2 separate regions of the Homo sapiens genome follow, and region 1 is linked to region 2. Evidence: fine-mapped expression QTL. Tissue or cell type: whole blood. Region 2 holds a variant in brackets; the other region holds the start of a gene. All regions are shown on one strand. Distances are from middle to middle.

What was found. PIP is the estimated chance that this variant, and not a neighbour inherited with it, causes the effect.
Region 1: it holds the start of DNM3, and the variant in region 2 is fine-mapped to the expression of DNM3 in whole blood (INTERVAL, PIP above 0.99).

What each region holds. Positions count from the first base shown.
Region 1 is chr1:171,840,116-171,842,805 of GRCh38, forward strand. It overlaps DNM3 (dynamin 3), which reads left to right and starts at 1,383. Exons shown (of 21, transcript NM_015569.5): 1 at 1,383-1,702. The coding sequence starts at 1,542. RefSeq lists a silencer at 1,198-1,427 and an enhancer at 1,628-1,807.
Region 2 is chr1:171,921,458-171,924,147 of GRCh38, forward strand. DNM3 (dynamin 3) reads left to right here. Exons shown (of 21, transcript NM_015569.5): 2 at 291-364. Among named protein-coding and RNA genes, the nearest start is that of DNM3-IT1, 59 kb to the left of the region's middle. The variant G/A (reference allele first, on the strand shown) is at 1,488.

The sequences.
Region 1 (2,690 bases), 81 kb before region 2:
TCAATCTCCACTCCTCAAAGACAACCACAGTTCCGATTTCTATTACCATAGAATAGCTTTGCTGGTTGTAGAACTTCACATACATGAAATCAAACCAATATGGTCTTTGGCCTTTTTCATTCTACATAATGTATCTGAGATTGTTGCTATATCAAAAGTCTTTTTTGTGGCAGAGATTATTTCACTATATATATATACCACGTTTGTTTATTCATTCACCTGTTGATAGACATTTGGGTTGTTTTCAGGTTTTTTGACATTATGAACATTTTAATATGTCTTTTTAGAGTTAGAAGGAACTGTACATTAAATGCTGAGATTACAAAAGATGACTTCAGTTTTGAATAAATTGAGTCTGTAGTACTTGTAGGACACTCAGGTAGTATTCTGGGCTCCTCTTGGAGTACAGTCTAAGTTGCAGAAGAGAGACAGGGTCTAGCAATGTAAATTTCTGTAGTCGCCAGCCTTGATTCAGAGTTAAAGCTATGGGAAAGTCCTCAGGCAGAGGACAAACATTAGACAAGAAAATGCCCATATATGAAACCCTGCGAAGCATCAGTATTTGAGGAGCAGACTAAAAAGGAACCGTCTGTGGAGGCTAAGAGAAGCATGGCCATTTATCTTTGTGTCCCGATCATCAGGCACAGGACCCCACACACAGTCACTTCTCAATGTGCTAAATTTCACAGAATGCGTCCAGGGTACCTGGTTCTGGATAGATCCGGTAGAAGGAGATAGACCGGGAGGGCAAATGGCATGAGGAGTCTCACAGGCCAGAGTGATTAAAGGGGTGTATCGGGGCGGTAAACCCTACAGACTCTACCTGTGCTTATGCGGGGCTGGGGAGGACGAGTCATTACAGATGAAGAATTAAGTAAGGTCAGACCACTCAGGGCCTTAGATGGATGTCACATTGAAGAATTTAGACTCCAACAGGCCTGCCACCCTGGGAGGAGTCATCGCGGATTCTGGAGAAGGGCGTGACAGAGGAGATTTCCTTTCGGGAAGTGTAGTCTGGCAGCGGTGCCCCGGTGGTGGCGGCGGCGGTGCTGCTGTTGCTGGTGATCGTGTGGTGGTGTTAGCGGCGATAGTGCTTTCCACTGGGCTTTGGCTTGGTAGCCGCTGAAAGAGAACAACGCTGCCGCTGCTGCTGATTTCATGCCATTTCCTGACCCGGCGCTGTAACTTGGCCTCTGAGCCTTGGCCACAGAACGCAGAGGCCGTGGCATCTGGCCGCAGCTGGGCTGCAGTGCGTGCGCGCCTGGCCTGGTGGTCCGATGGGAAGCCCGGGGCGGGGCAGCCGCGGGGCGGGGGCGGGGCGTCGCGGAGATAGGCCACGCCCCTGCCCGCCCGCGCAGGCGCGCTGCGGGTCGTTAGCTGTCAGAGCCAAGCGGCGGGCTGGCGGCGGGCTCCGACGTCTGCGCCAGGACCTGGCTGGCTGAGCCCGGCGCAGCAGCAGCAGCCAGGGCAGCGCGGCCCCTACTCCCTGTCAGGTCGTAGAGGCGAGCAGGGACCAGCTGGTCGCCGGCCCCTCGGGCAAGATGGGGAACCGGGAGATGGAGGAGCTGATCCCGCTGGTGAACCGTCTGCAGGACGCGTTTTCGGCGCTGGGACAGAGCTGCCTGCTGGAGCTGCCGCAGATCGCCGTGGTGGGCGGCCAGAGCGCCGGCAAGAGCTCGGTGCTCGAGAACTTCGTGGGCAGGTAAGCGCGCAGGGCGCGGAGTAAGGATGCGGCAGTGGGGCGACCCCGCTGCGGGCCGTTGGAACGTGGACGGGCAGCGGGAGCCAGAGGGTGGATGGACCAGGCGCTGCGGTGGAATGGGGGGCAGAGTGGAATGGGGGGCAGAGTGGCGGTGTCCGTGGGGCGGGCGGGGTCCTCCAGCTCTGGGCATCCTCCGTCCCCTGCCACCCCCCGCCTGGTGGCCCTCCTGCCTGCCTTTCATCGTGCGATACAAAGCCATTTCCTCCCTGTCCTCCAGTCGGGGAGTCGGGGGAGGGGTCCGCCCCGGGCTCGACCCCCACCCCCTCGGTGCGCGCCAGCCCCGGGCAGCCTCCCTGCGTAGCGCGCCGAAAGCTTCCCAGTGCCCCTCTCCTGTTTTCCCAGCTCAACACCCCCCTCCTTTTCCTGTCGCCCTCCGTGAGGCTCCCTGTGAGGCTGTGGGGCTTTATCCCCCGAGCCCCCTCCCTTAGGTGGAGATGCTTTCCTTCTCGCCAGGGTTCTCGTTCCTCTCAGCTGTCTACTGTTGCCTGCCTCTAGCTGGGGAGGCGGGGTGCGAGGAGAAAGACGTCGTTTGTTGTGGTGAAGCTTTATCCAGAGACGCTTCCCCACCATTCTCCTCCCGGAGAGTCGAAGAATAAAAGGTGGTGTGTTTGCGTGTGCACCTATTCACAGCTTCAGGCAATTGTGAGAGAGCCCGAGGCACAGACTTGGCAGGGGGTGGACGTGGACTTATGTTGTCCAGGTGCCATGTCATTCCTGCATCATCTCGGAACTGACCAGCATCTTTCTCGCACTCTCTCTGCGCCCCCTCCCCCAGCATCATCTTCCGTTCTCTAAGCTCCTATTTGTCTTGCTAGCCTTCAAGACAACATTCTGAATCTAAATTGTAGCTGTGGTTTTCCTCATGACTCTTAATACAGAAACAGCTAAGGAATTAATTTTCGAATTAGGAATCAGCATTTCTTCCACT
Region 2 (2,690 bases):
ACACAGAAACTAAGGGCAAACTTTTATCAGTTTCAGCTAGATGAATGAATGACATATTCCAGTGAAGTCATTATGATAATGTACATGGATTTCTGTGCAATATAAGGCCCTCCTCCTCCTTTTTTTTAAATTTGAAAATGCTTCTTTTATTAAGATGGGCCTATCATTGTTTGGATAAGCGATACATTGAAAGGTTGGGAATTAGGAGAATTGCTGTGGAACTTGGTTTATGAATGTACAGGTGATAAGAATTCCTTCATGCCTTAATCTGTATTTCTTACTTTTTTTAGGGACTTTCTCCCTCGAGGGTCGGGCATTGTAACAAGACGACCTCTTGTGCTGCAGCTTGTTACTTCTAAAGCAGGTAATGAATGAAGATGTTTACCGCATGGATGGGCACATCCTGTGGCCCCTTTTGCCTTCATAGGTGTGGGATTGTACAAATAGAAACGTTTTTGTGATCGCCCCACTGTGGGCAGCTGCCCACATTTCTCTCCAGAATGCTGCCTTCTTCATTGCTCTTTTCATTCCTTTGATTACATTAAAGGGGATATTTTCATAGATTTTTTTAAAATACCTACTTAAAAAAATGTTTTATTGCTCATTGTAATCCATCTATATAATTTTACAGTACAGCACAACCACTAATACTCCTTTGGTATGCTTTGTGTGTGTGTGTGTGTGTGTGTGTGTGTGTGCGTATGTGTGCATGCACATGCACTTGGGGATTAACTCATAAAATTCAACAACCATATAATATCTGTATGGATGTGTATGTGCGTATCTATATTTACACTGTGCTATGCTTCCTTCTCTCTCTTACATCATGATAATTTGATAGGTAAATGATGCTTTGTTTTTATTTTCATTTTATTTCAGCAACTGATGATGTTGAATTTTTTTTTCATGTTTATTTGCCATTTGTATTTCTTCTCTCGTGAATTGGCCATTTTTCTTTTTCCCCATTTCTTTTTGGGGATTTTACTAGTTTTCCTATCAATTTCTTTGAATGCTTAAGACTGAAGCACCTCATAAAAATCATCTATCATAAATTGCAAATATTTTTAATAGCTTGTTAAAGATACAGTTTACATACCATACAACTTGACCAATAGAAGTTAACAGTTGAATAGATTTTAGTCTTTTCACAGATATGTGCAACCATCTCCACAATCAGCTTTAGAACTGTTTGATCACTCCCAAAAGAAAGCCTGTATGTTTCTGCTGTCACCTCTTTTCATAACACCTTTCCCCACCACTCCAGCCTAGGCACTACTAACCTATGTTCTGTCTCTATGGATTTCCCTATTCTGGACATGTCATATGAATAGAATCATTTAATATGTGGTCTTTTGTAATAGGCTTTTCTTGCTTGGCATAATCTTTTCAAGGTTCATCCATGTCGTAGCATGTATTAGAACTTCATTTCTTTTTATGGCCTAATAATATTCCATTGTCTGGATAGATCACATTTTGTTTGTCCATTC[G/A]TTAACTGAGGAGCATTTGAGTTGTTTCCACCCTTTGGTTATTATGAATGATGTTGCTATAAACATTCATGTACATGTTTCTGTGTGGACATGTGTTTTCATTTCTCTTAGAAATATACCTGAGTATAATTGCTGGGCCATGTAGTAACTCTCTGTTTAATTGTTTAAGGAACTGACAGACTGTTTTCAAAGCAGCTGCCCCATTTTACATTCCTACCGGCAGTGTATGAGGGTTACAGTTTTTCTATATCCTTGCTAACCCTTGTGGGTAAGAAGTGATATCTCACTGTGGTTTTGACTTGCGTTTTCCTAATGACTAAAGATACTGAGCATCTTTTCATGTGCTTAATGATCATTTGTATATATTATTTAGATAAATGTGTATTCATTTCCTTTGCCTAGTTTTAAATTTGGTTATTTGCCTTTGTATTACTGAATTGTAACAGATATATATTAAATACAAGTCCCATATCAGATATTTGATTTGCATTTTTTTTTTCTATTTTATAGGCCCTTTTCATTTTCTTGGCAGTGTCCTTTGAAGCACAAGATTTTTTATTTTGGTGAAGTCCAATTTATCTACTTTTTTCTTTCATTTCTCGTTATTTTTGTATATATCTAAGAATCCTTTGCCAAAACCAAGGTTATAAAACTTTATTCTATGTTTTCTTCTAGGAGATTTATAGCTTTGATCTTCCACTTAGGTCTTTGATCCATTTTTTAAAATTACTAATTTTTAAATTTTAAATTTCATTTTAGATTTGGGGATAGGTACAGGTTTGTTATATTGCATAATGTGTAATGCTGAGGTTTGGGTTTCTAGTGAAACTATCACCCAAATAGTAAACGCAGTCCCCAATAGGTAGAATTTCAACCTTCACCCCTCTTCCACTCTTCCCCCTTTTGGAGTTCTTTGCATCTGTTTTTCCCATCTTTATGTCCATGTTTACCCACTGTTTAGTTCACACTTGTAAGTGTGAATGTGTGGTATTTTATTTCCTATTTCTGTTATTTCTCTTAGAATAATGGCCTCCAGCTCAGTCCATGTTGCTGTGAAGGACATGATTTCATTCTTTTTTATGGCTGCATAGTATTCTATGGTGTATGTGTCCCCTGTTTTCTTTATCCAGTCAACTGTTGGTGGGCTTAGGTTGATTCCATGATTTTGCTGTTGTGAATAGTGCTGCAGTAAACATACAAGTA